3 linked regions of the Homo sapiens genome follow. The protein of the gene in region 2 interacts with the protein of the main gene of each other region in a pairwise test. Each region holds a gene or a part of one and is shown on either strand. Other genes may lie near its edges.

Region 1 (3,648 bases), on a different chromosome or scaffold from region 2:
AGCTAAACATCTGGAAATGTGGAAACTATTCCGTAAAGCGCAAGAGGACCACACGCTCGGAAGAGACATCAGTTATGTGGCTGAGGTCAGGCCCGGGGAGGCTGGAGGGAGAGCGCATACTGGAGATAGCTTACTTACAATGAACCCAAGCTTCTTATAATCTCGCGTGTACATGGACTTGCGTTTCTCCATGCTGCCACTGCTGTTGTTAGGTTCAGACTCAGCATCAAAAGCAATTCTTCGAAGTTCAAATATGATGTCCCTCTGAGCCTGAAGGAATCAGGGAGTAAAAAGAAAAGGGAGGGGAAAAAGCTGCTTTCATTGTGTGACATTACATATACTCCCTCTTTCCCTGGGGTCTAAATGAATCACTGCATTCAGGCAAAAGAAAAACAGATAAAAGAGAACCAATGTTCTAAGTTAGGGCTTTGCAGACCACTCTTCCCCCGTCAGTCTCCCTGCTGGTCAGGCCTGGCTGTATTCCACAGTGGTCCTCTTAGCCAAGTAGTTATCTGGAGCACGAATATTGATAGTCCAGTGCAGTCTTAACTGAGAGGCCCAGATATGATGGAAGGGTCGTGATTGGAGAAAGCTAAGCTAGAGAAACTGGGGATACTGTACAGTTGGGAACAAAGTAAGAAGCACCCAAAGTGCCTCACCCCACTAAGTTACTTCATGGAAACCAACACAGGACAAAAAAGAAAGAAAGGGTCAAAGGTGCAAACAACCCAAGTGTCCATCCAAGGGTAAATGGATGAACAAAATGTGGTGTGGACATACAATGGGATACTATCCAGGCTTTGAAAGAGGGCAATCCCAGTAGATGCTACAATCTGGATGAGCTTTGAAGATATTATGCTGAGTGAAATAAACCAGACACAGAAATATGCATATTGTCCAATTTCAATTATATGAGGTCCCTGGAGTAGTCAAATTCATAGACAGAAACTAGAATGGTGGTTACCAGGGACTAAGAGGACAGGGGAATGGGGAGTTAGTGTTTAATGGGTACAGAGTTTCAGTTCTGCAAGATAAAAAGAGTTCTGGAGATAGATGGTGGTGACAGTTTCCTAACAATGTGAATGTACTTAATGCCACTAGACTGTACACTTAAGAATGGTTAAAATAGTAAACTTTCTGTTATACATATCCCACCACAATAAAATACATAAATAAATTTTTAAAAGGGTTTCCAAGCAAAGAGCGTCATGTCATTCAATATTAAGAGGCATTGCTCTCTGCCACTAGAAGTGGTAAGATGACAGTCTCCTCTCCCTGGGATGACCACACCTTGCCAAAAACGTGGGGCACATTCACCGCCTCTCAAAGCCTCTCCATCATTCTTAACCGTATGGCCTTGCTCCATGAATGAAGTGCCACGGCAGCTACACACTTCACATATGCAGTTCACATCTGCAACAGATCAGGCCCTCACGTGCCAATAATGAGTGTTTTCCTTTCCAAAGCTGCAGCGCTGTTTAAGTTGAAAATGTGCTACGGCAGGGCTCCCAGCTGTTTCCTCTCACTCTACCCTCACACAGCAAAGGTCCCCAAAGCCTTCTGAATGGAGCTATAACCTTTCATGCACAACAAGAGACCCAGCAGAGAGTTACAGCCAACAGCCAACCGACAGAAATGCTGGCCCAGAAATCAGGTTTAATCTGGGACCCTGCTCTTGGCACTGATCCCTGGAGAACGAAAATTGCTAACTCAACCCCACAGAATCAATGCCACATAGAGTCACCAAGAGGCCCTAGTTGTCTGGGAACTTGACTCCAAAGCTACTACTATTAAATGTTACTTGGGGCCAGGAGCTAAAGTCTGTGGTCATGTGACATCAAACTTTCTTATTCAATAAATGCAGAAAGAACATGCATGTTTGGAGCCTAATGGAAGAATGCATTTGGTATATTTTCTGATCCTAGATTCACCTAATTTTGAAGCCATGCCCCTAAGTTCTGAGATGATAATAAAATGACATCATATCAAACTCTGAAACTCCCTAGTTTCAGGGTACCTCAAGAAAAGACTTTTAATGACACTTTCTGTCCTTCCTGTGCTTTGACTGCTGTCCAATGAGCACTCACCTGGTCCTGGGGGTCCATTTTGGTCATCATCCTGTCTTCCAGGAGGTTAAAGGTGAGCACTTGTAGAACATACAGCTGGTGCGCCATCTCATTGTTGATGGCCCGCTGGGCTCGGATGACATGCTAGGGAGATGGTTCACAAATGAAATTTTTTAAAAAAGAAAGAAAAGGAAACAACTAGAATTAACACTCAAGAAGGCTCTCACAGTCTTCACTGGGAGGTATAAGGAATGGAGAAGGAAGGTGAGGGCACAGGGAATTTCAGAGCTTTCCTTTGAATTTCAGAGCCCAGTAAGGTTCCTGATCTTCAGGTCACAGGCCATGAAAAAACCTACTGTGGGCAGGAGGGAGTGGAAGGGGAAAAGCGCTGGAAAGGGACTGATGATGGCAGCCATATAAGTCAAGAGAAGATGTGCTTGAAATGGGGGTGTCTCCAAGACAACTGTGGATTTCTACAATGGAAGCATCTGTCACACGCAGCAGAAAAACCAATGATGCATACCCATAGGAAGCAATTTTGCCATTATCTTACCCTGGGACTGTCTCTGACAGGTGAGCCCACTTCAAAATGGGGAAAAGTTTTAGAAGGAACACACAAAAGCAAAATACCCATCAAATCTTAATCCACTGTGGGAGCTACACAAGGATGTCTACCATCAAAAGCAGAGAGCAAATGCTCGTGAATTACTTTACTCACTGTTAACAATTAAATGAAAGATAAAATGACTTTTCCCCATAGAAACAGAACTGAAAAGAGAACATACAAGGAGTGGCAGGACAGGAAGACTGGATAGGTCCACCCCCAATCCCCTCACCCCTGCCCAGAAATGGGACAGCTGCCACCAACTCAACATTCAGCATTTGGGACTAACATACAGCCTTTTCAACAGAGATTCTGACTGTACATTAAAAATGCCAAACAATGGATCAATGTGGTGGAACAACCCATCAAATCAGTTATTTCAACTGTGCTAGCCCCACTCATGCCATGTTATCTGAAAGACCAATTCTCTTGGCAATCTGTAGTTGCTCCTGGGTAGACAGACTGCTGCAAACCAACTTCTAAGTGGCCGTTCAGTAAATGACAAAGCTCCCCATTGTAGAGAAAAATGATCTTCCTCCAGGATTGGAGGAAGTCTAGGTCCTTAGAGTGCTGCCTGGGTGACTCTCAACCTGACATCCACCTGCAATCCACACCATAGCTGTCAGTGCCATGCTGAAATAGCTAATTCAAGGAGGAGGGGTGGGAGAAGATTGAGGAATAGAAGAAAGAGGACAGGGAGGAATGAGAGAATACAGTCACCAAACCAAAATTATGGGAAGCAGGGAAGCTAGATAACGGATGGTTAGGAGCAAATCAAACCCCTTATCCTCCAATCCTCAGAAAAGCATGTTAACTCATGGCACACACTTAGTATCCAAAGCGTATGGGAATCTCTTTTCTTAGCAACTCGAAAGTACTGCACTCCAAGTTCTTGCAGGAGAGTACCAACCTCGAACTTCAGCCATCAACAACATCTCATACAAGAAGTCCCACTGAAGCAAACTGATTTTTGAGACA
Region 2 (3,648 bases):
AGTCATTCTTCACTTATGGGTCATCCATCTAGATTTGGTCCACAGGCCCTTGTGTAGCAGCCTATGTCATCTCAGTTTACGTAGGCCACCCCCACCCACCCACGCAGTACCAGGAAACACCCAAGTTGTCGACACCTAGTTCAGAGGCATCCTCAGTTAACTGTTTCTTGGGTGTCCCTACAGAAACTATCAATGCATCTATAAGATACATGTTTTAAGGTTTTACACAAATAGGAGCTGTAAGTAAAGATCTGTTGAGCTTCTTGCCTTTAGCAACTACCAATACGTACTGGTGTTCAGTTCATATTAGTGCAGTTGATCCATCTCATTAATCTTAATGCCTACATTGTTGCTCAATTGCTTTATAAATGGTAGCACAATGCTTCAAGGGGTCATGTCATGTCAGTGGTCCTTAGCTTTGGGGCATTCGCCTTTAAAACAACCCTGCCTTTCATTCAGGGCCACCGCAGATAGCCTTTCAGACCCTGAAGTTCGCCTTTGTACATCGTATGGTAAACAGGGACTGTTCTCGCAAGCTGTTCCTAATTCTACCTGCTGGCCAGTAGCTCCGTTGCCAGTAGAGCTGCTTTCACCTTTGTGCATGGCAGATTTTGTGTAATATCCAGACTGATTTATTCTATTTTTTAAAAATTGTTTTATAGAACAAGGCGAAATTTTTTTAAAACACGTGATATTAGTGATAGGAAACACTGGCCTCAAAGGTGGTAAATTTAACACCTCATTCATTGGTTTGTGGAACTCTAGCCAACTAGTCAACTCCATTCAAGAAATACTAGAAATTTAGTTTTCGTGGGTTTTTTTGAGGTGGAGTTTCACTCTGTCGTCCAGGCTGGAGTGCAGTGGCATGATCTTGGCTCACTGCAACCTCCACCTCCCAGGTTAAAGCAATTCTCCTGCCTCAGCCTCCCAAGTAGCTGGGATTACAGGCATGTGCCACCATGCTCAGCTAATTTCTGTATTTTTAGTAGAGACGGGTTTTCACCATATTGGCCAGGCTGGTCTCGAACTCCTGACCTCAAGTTATCTGCCTGTCTCAGCCTCCCAAAGTGCTGGGATTACAGGCGTGAGCCACTGCGCCCAGCCAGAAATTTAGTTCTAAAAGAACTAAAATTGTCTAAAAGACAAGGAGGATAAGTGGGCTTATTATACGTAAGTTCTTATTTTGGATTTTTGGTAGTTTCAAGATGCCTTAGTTACGAAAATAGAGTCTGCAATGTACTTTAGTGATTCAGTCCTGTTTGCTATAAATTCTGTTTACTTCCGTGTGTGTGTGTGTGTGTGTGTGTGTGTGTATGCACACATGCCATTACAGGTAATATTGAAATTAGCATCTTCATACACAGCCCTTTTTTCCCCAATAACATGATTTTCTCACTGGAGTAAATGTCCAGGAATTGAAAGAGGATTTTACTGAATGAAATAAGCTTTGGCACTTATTTTCCATCATTTTCTGAGAATTTCTGATATTTGATTCTATTTTAAACCTACTTTCCCCAGTATTTTCTCTACAATCTGTACTTTCTTTTATAAAGACAGCTATGTGCTCATTCAGTTTTCTGAAGGCATTTTTCAAGCAAGCATCTTTACTATGTTACTGAAGAGTGGATGGTCCAATATTTATACTGTAAGAACATTTAAATGTGATTATCTTTCACATTTTAAATTCAGCCTCAATTAAAGAGCAAATCTTTTTTGTCTCTCTCCCATCTCAACTCTGAGTGGCATGGTTTTGGACCCACTCAAGAAGGATCAAGGTAAAAATGTAGAATTTTTTAAAAAATCTTCCACATCTCAAGGTTGGTTTAAACACGACAAAATGTGTTGGCTTGGAAGTGTGTACCACTTGCTGGGACTTGGCTTGCTTCAGTGCTTCTGGGCAAGAAAGCCTGGTGAGGCTTCGTTTGTGAGTGGAGAGCAGTTTTAGGTTCTCTTTGTACCTTTAGCAGCTCTGAGGTGGTGAGCAAGACATTTCAAACTCAGTCTTTGTTGAAGGGCAAATGGGATTGTGTGCAGAAAGCTGACCTGGCCCTTCAGGGCCCATTAGATCCCACTCCGAGCAGCTCTCCTGCCTCAGTTCCTTCCCCTTCTCCCCTGCTGTTCCCCGCCTTGGATTCTTCTCTCTCTAGCAAGCATCGCCTCACCCAGAGGCCTCTCTGGACCACGCTGTGCAAATCACTTCCCCCCTACACAGGCCCACCGCCAACACTCTCATCTATCTTACCTTCACTTATTAAGATCTGAAATTATCTCACTTTGTTTGTTCCTCTGTCTTCCTCTCTGGGAACGAAACTCCATGAGGGACAGACCTGGGCTTTCTTACTCAGTGCTGCATCTCCGGTGCCTACAACAGTGCCTGCACAAAGTAGTTGCTCAATACATGCTTTGTGGTAGTGTGTGAACGAATGGGAGCTTACAGGGAGTGCAGGTGGAGCCCTGGCTGCAGCCCCGCTGTGAGGATAGGAACAGCACTACTTTCTAGTCAGCAGGTGTTTGGCAACGGAGGTCATTCCTGACTCTCAGCTCTCTAACCCCTACCTGGCGTCAGCCTAAGCTGCCACTCAGCCTGTTCTCTTGACAATTGTCCCCCTCCTTGTCCATGGTCAGATGTTGCCTTAGATGCAAGCTGTTGCTATTGAAATCAAGGTCACAAAGACCTGTAGCCTCCCTCCAGCATTTCCCAGCAACTTCCTCCCTTCATCTATTCCACGAGGCAAAACAGCCCAGACACAACACCCAACTCGAAAACACAGCTCACCATCCATGCCTCAGCCATTCACCCAATGCATAGTTATTGGGCTCCGGGGGTTCAGGGTGATCAAGACAGAGCTGACATTCCAATGGAGTGAGCATGACAGTGAGTAAATAGACCCATGGTTTCAGGTGGTGAGAACTGCCAGAAAGAGGAGAAAACAGGGGGATCTGATGGAGGCGATGGATGGAAAAGGCCACTCTGAACACCCAAGAGATGGGAAAAGCTTTCCAGGAAGAGGGAACAGCAGATGCCAAGGGCCTGCAGTGGGAAGGTATTCAGCATAGTACAGGGCCCCTGTAAAGACCCATGGGGTCAAAGAAGAGTAAACCAAGAGAGAGAGGGGTCAGAAGTGAGATCTGAGGTGTAAGCAGGATAACATAGGGCCTGGTCGGCCGTGTAAGAGCTTTGAAGCCATTCTAATTGCAAAGGAAACCACCAGCCCACTTAAAGCAGGAGATGACATGATCTAATTTATGTTTTCTAGATCACTCAGGCTGCTGTGCAACAGATGGGCTGTAAGTAGGAAAGAGCAAAAGCTGGTAAACGTGGAGACTTCAGTGTAGGTGGCTTCATTTTCCACTGGGGTGGTACCCTGCTCTTCTCCATGGACACGAAGGAGAATCGTGTACTCTGTCTTTAAAAAAGTAGAACTTTTGATGTTTGAGACCGCTGGTCGCCGTGTCGGGTGGGGAGTGGTTGTGAGCAGAAAAAATAGTAAATCAAGGAGTAGATAGCTTCTATTTATGTGTGTTACGTTTGATTCAGGAACACAATGTACCTTTCATTCCGTCAACAAATATTGAATGCCTGCTGCACACCAGGCACTGTTCTAAATGCTTCCAAGTCCAAGTGCCTGGTCCCCTTTCTCCATATGT
Region 3 (4,251 bases), on a different chromosome or scaffold from region 2:
ATATTTCTGTACTAGTTTGCTAAGTAAAAGATTACTTACACTGGTTTTAGTAAAAGAAAAAAAAAGCCATGGGTCTAAAGGTTTATGTTATTATTATGGAATATAATCACAATACTAAACTCACAATCCCATCATCTTTACCTGAGAATGCTAAAGAAAGCTACAATTTTTAAGGTGAAAACTTCTTTGGAAATCTTGATGAATAAATTTGTTTCCCCTAAAAATCTATATCAGTACGTAACTAAACATTTTATTGTGTTTAACACTAGTTTTGGCTGCAAATACTATTTTTAAAACTGCTTATGACTGTAAAGCAACTTTTCACAACAATTCAAAATAAATAGTGACTTTGATTTTATTTGCTTGTTTATTCTGAGAATCAATTACTAACCTTGGTGCCATTTTTCCAAAGTGATTGATGTAATCTAAAAATCTAAACTTGGCATTCTACACAAGGAACCTGCTCAGGAGCAATACACTTACTAATACTTGATACATACATAGCTGCTGCCTGATTGTATGTAATAGCCAACACCTAAAACTAATTTAAATCACTAAATTAAGTATGGTTTTCTCCAATTCCTTCTGGTGCATTTCAATAGACCTATTTTACCCAGAAAATTTGTCTAATCACTTTGAAAAAATATATGGAAAAACAACCAGTTTAATATATATAAATTTTAAAATAAGCATCTAATTCGTAGGATAAATTAACATTTCCAATCCTAAAGACTTGGATTTGGAAGGAAATCTGTCATCTAGTCCAGCCCCCTACCAAATAAAATAATCCCCACTTCACAATGTTCCTTGGAATCAAACTCATATCTGACTGAAAAGCTCTCACTACTAACCACTACTATATTAACATCTTCTAAAATTGGTTCTTGCCATTAATCAGAAGACTGATAAAGAATTACCTTGAAGTCCTTGAAAAGCAGTGTATATATTATTCTTATAAATCCTGAAAATACAGGTTTAGAAAAGAAGTGACATTTACTTATCACCAGGGATTTCAGTGGCCCAAACTGTCCATATGCTGGTATATTGAATACTGGAGTACTCTGCAAACTTTTGGAGTTTGCTTAAAGCACAAAAATCAACTAATCAAAGTAGTAATAAAATAACAGTTGTCAACTCAAGCTTAAGTTTTCTCTTCATTTTATCAAGTTCACATTCAAGTTTAAAAAGCTTATGAACTTCTTGAAAGTTGAAGTTAGATTGACTACCTAAAAACGAGCAAGTACAACTCTAAAATGATACCTGTATTGTGGCAACAGATACAAATACCATTCTTTACTTTCATTTTGAGATACACTAGAATCTCTCTTGAAGCTAGTGCTTCAGAAGCACTTTTGTAAAAACGCTTAACCTTCTCTTCCATATGCCTTTCTCTACCTCACCAGCTGGAATCTGTCACAAAAACAGATAATCACATATGATACAGAAATAGTTGATCCTACTGCAGAATTAGGTTAACACTTCTAAATTGAGGCATAGAAAAGAAGGGGGTGGGGGAACAAGCCCTACTTAAACAAATCATTTACCTCGGTCTGGCTTCATTTTCACATCCAATTTTCGCCCAGAGTGCTGTGAAATGCACCTGTGGGTTCTTTCAACAGGCTCGCCGCTGATTCTACGGCTTCTGCTTCGCTTTCAAAATGCTGAAAGAGACAAAAATAAAATTAATCTGGCCCTATTCTAATACCCGGACCTTGCAAGTAAACTACTGTTAAGTTAGGCCTCTTCCTGGCACCAACTGCGGTGACAGCACCCTCGGCTGGTCTGAAAAAAGCAAAACTCTCTGCACCGCCTCCCCCATCTCCTCCGGATCGAGCACCCCCTTCCCTGCCTCTGTGCTCTCCAGGCCAATGTGTCCTTCTGACACAGTCTCTGAACCAAAACAGGATCTATTTATAACCTGGAGGTACAGGCAAGAAGAAGAAAAAGATTTGAGCAACACAAACTAACCCCTTCGTACAAAAACGCCTCTGGAAACAGAGGCACCTCCGCAGGGCTGGTATGGAAATTCTTCCACCTGGTGCCTGGGCGCAGCCAACTCTTCCAGTCCCCTGCGCCTCCCGAGCCCTCCGCCCGCCCCGCCGGGCCTCACCTGTGTAATTACCCTCTGGCTAGCCTTCCTGCGGCAACCGCGGCCAAGTTTACACAGAAACCCGAGTCACCTCCTCCCGCCCAGCCCCCAGCCCCAAACGAACTCTTCCGGGCTGTCCCGGGGCGACCCTACCAACTCCCAACCAGTCCTCCGCGGCCGGCTCCGGGGGAGGTGTTTACAGCCTGTGCTCGCCCCCTGCTCTGCACAACCCCTTCCGTCCCGCCGCGGCCCCGGATTTCCTTCAGCCCCGCCGCACCGAGCGCCGCGTCTGCCCCTCTCCCCGCTGGAGAGTTGTTTTCATGGCGCTCTCGAGCTGGCCGGCTCCTCCGCTCCCTCGGCCGACCTCTGCTGACTAACTCGCTCTCCTCTCCCGTCCCAATCCCGCCTCCTCTTGGCACTTCTCTCCACCGCTCGCCCAGCAGCTCACATCACACTCCCACCTCAGACCCCAGGCTCCGAGAGGCGCAGGGCCAGCGGGAGCGGAGTATGGAGCGCAGCGGCCCCCGCGGCTGCCTCAGGTGACCGTGGGGACCCGAGACGACCAGCCCGAAGCGGCTCCCCGGCGCCCCTGTGGCCATCCACCCGCGCCTCAGCCACCGCCTCGCTCCGCTCCCTGCGCTCAGCCCCTCCGCCCTGCCTGACTGGCACCCGAGCCCCGCGACCCCCGGGCTTCCCCCGCCCGTAGCCCCGGCCGGCCCTCTTGCCCAGCGCCTCTGCCAGCTCCTTGCCCGCCCGCTGTCTCTAGCTCTGGCGCCCCGGCTCCCCGTCCCCCTCGCTCGGCCAGTTCTTTCTCTGCTGTTTGCCCTGTCAAAACACTGCCTAGGTCACGTGTCCCAACAACAGCCAACCCACCCCGGTCGTCACTTCCTCCCCGGCGGCCTCCGCGGCCCTGGCGCCCGGTTACTATGGCAATGCCGCCGCTCGCCCCGGGGCGCTAGTTTGGGGCCGGGTTTTCGGTGCAGGTGCCCGGCGGGTGCGAGGGCGCTGGAGATGGCGGCTGGGAGACACCAGCAGAGTCCCGGAAGCCCGAGACGTCCCAGGCACTTCGGTTGCGCTCCCAGCCGGCAGAGGCGCGCCTGGATTCTGAGACCAGGAATCGGAGCTGCGCTATTAGAGCGCAGGGTAACTGGGGAGATGTCATCCAAAGGCCTGCCCCAGACGTGGAGGATAATTATAGTCGTCGTCTCCTCCTCCTCCTCCTCCTCCTCCTCCTCCTCCTCCTCCCCCCTCCCCCTCCTTCCCCCCCTCCTCCTCCTCCTCCTCCTCCTCCCGGGATGCTGGCACAGAGTTGTGATCGAGCCCCAAGTGGATTGCAGCGCATAATGGAACCCGGGTTTAATGTGACCGGGACGGGGGGTGGGCAGCTATGCGGGTCAGGGAGTGGGAGAATTTAAGAACAGGAAGCCCACCCCCACCCTAGATTTTCCCAAATCACTAAGGATTTTAGTAGGATTCAGAACCCAAGCTTCCAAGACACTCGCTGTGCTAAAAATAATCTTCATAACTTCTAAAACACTGACTCATGGGCAGGAGGACACTTTGACAGCATGTTATTGTTGGGGAGCTGTAATTTTGTTGTTGTGCTATAGCAATGTGACATGATGGCATTTCATGTTGTGATGTTGTCGTCATTTAAACACAAACAGATGACAGGAATCTGCTGTACTTAAAAAAAAACCCAATCCTAACAAGCGCTGCAGCTATTAGCTACTCAGTCTATAGACAAAGTACATATGGGGCATGAGCCCAAATGGAGACAAGTAAAAATTTGCAAGGCTCTTTGGTTTCATTAGAAAAAGTTTTTTTTTTAGATATAATTTTGCATAAAAGGATCACAGGAAAGTATTAGGACAAGTCTAAGGGGATTTTTTTTATTTGTGCCCTTCTGTTTTAAAATTTTTTTTACAATGAGTCTATTATTTTCACATCAGAAGAGTTTTATAAACTGCAAGATTGGCAGTTCCATTTTTTTGGCCTCAGGTAAAGTTCTTATGAAAAAGGCATGAAATATTTAAAAAGTAACATTTTCTAGTGCTTAGATATGTACAGTAAAATAACATGTACAACTGAAATTGTTAACCTTAACTCCACGATTGTATCTAATCAGAGCGGAGAGAACATTCAGGAGGGTAACATTTCAT

What was found.
Region 1: the proteins of CASS4 (region 2) and ELMO1 interact in a two-hybrid assay, tested with the Homo sapiens proteins (one large-scale study listed by IntAct).
Region 3: the proteins of CASS4 (region 2) and ATOSA interact in a two-hybrid assay, tested with the Homo sapiens proteins (one large-scale study listed by IntAct).

The regions. Positions count from the first base shown.
Region 1 is NC_000007.14:37,211,248-37,214,895, forward strand, and holds part of ELMO1 (engulfment and cell motility protein 1), read right to left. Parts: intron 2,211-3,648; coding exon 2,088-2,210; intron 271-2,087; coding exon 139-270; intron 1-138. UniProt on the Homo sapiens protein: Involved in cytoskeletal rearrangements required for phagocytosis of apoptotic cells and cell motility. Acts in association with DOCK1 and CRK. Was initially proposed to be required in complex with DOCK1 to activate Rac Rho small GTPases.
Region 2 is NC_000020.11:56,415,246-56,418,893, forward strand, and holds part of CASS4 (cas scaffolding protein family member 4), read left to right. Parts: intron 1-3,648. UniProt on the Homo sapiens protein: Docking protein that plays a role in tyrosine kinase-based signaling related to cell adhesion and cell spreading. Regulates PTK2/FAK1 activity, focal adhesion integrity, and cell spreading.
Region 3 is NC_000015.10:52,676,462-52,680,712, forward strand, and holds the start of ATOSA (atos homolog protein A), read right to left. Parts: upstream 2,928-4,251; 5' UTR 2,367-2,927; intron 2,297-2,366; exon of another isoform or gene 1,850-2,296; intron 1,662-1,849; 5' UTR 1,561-1,661; coding exon 1,545-1,560; intron 1-1,544. UniProt on the Homo sapiens protein: Transcription regulator that syncronizes transcriptional and translational programs to promote macrophage invasion of tissues.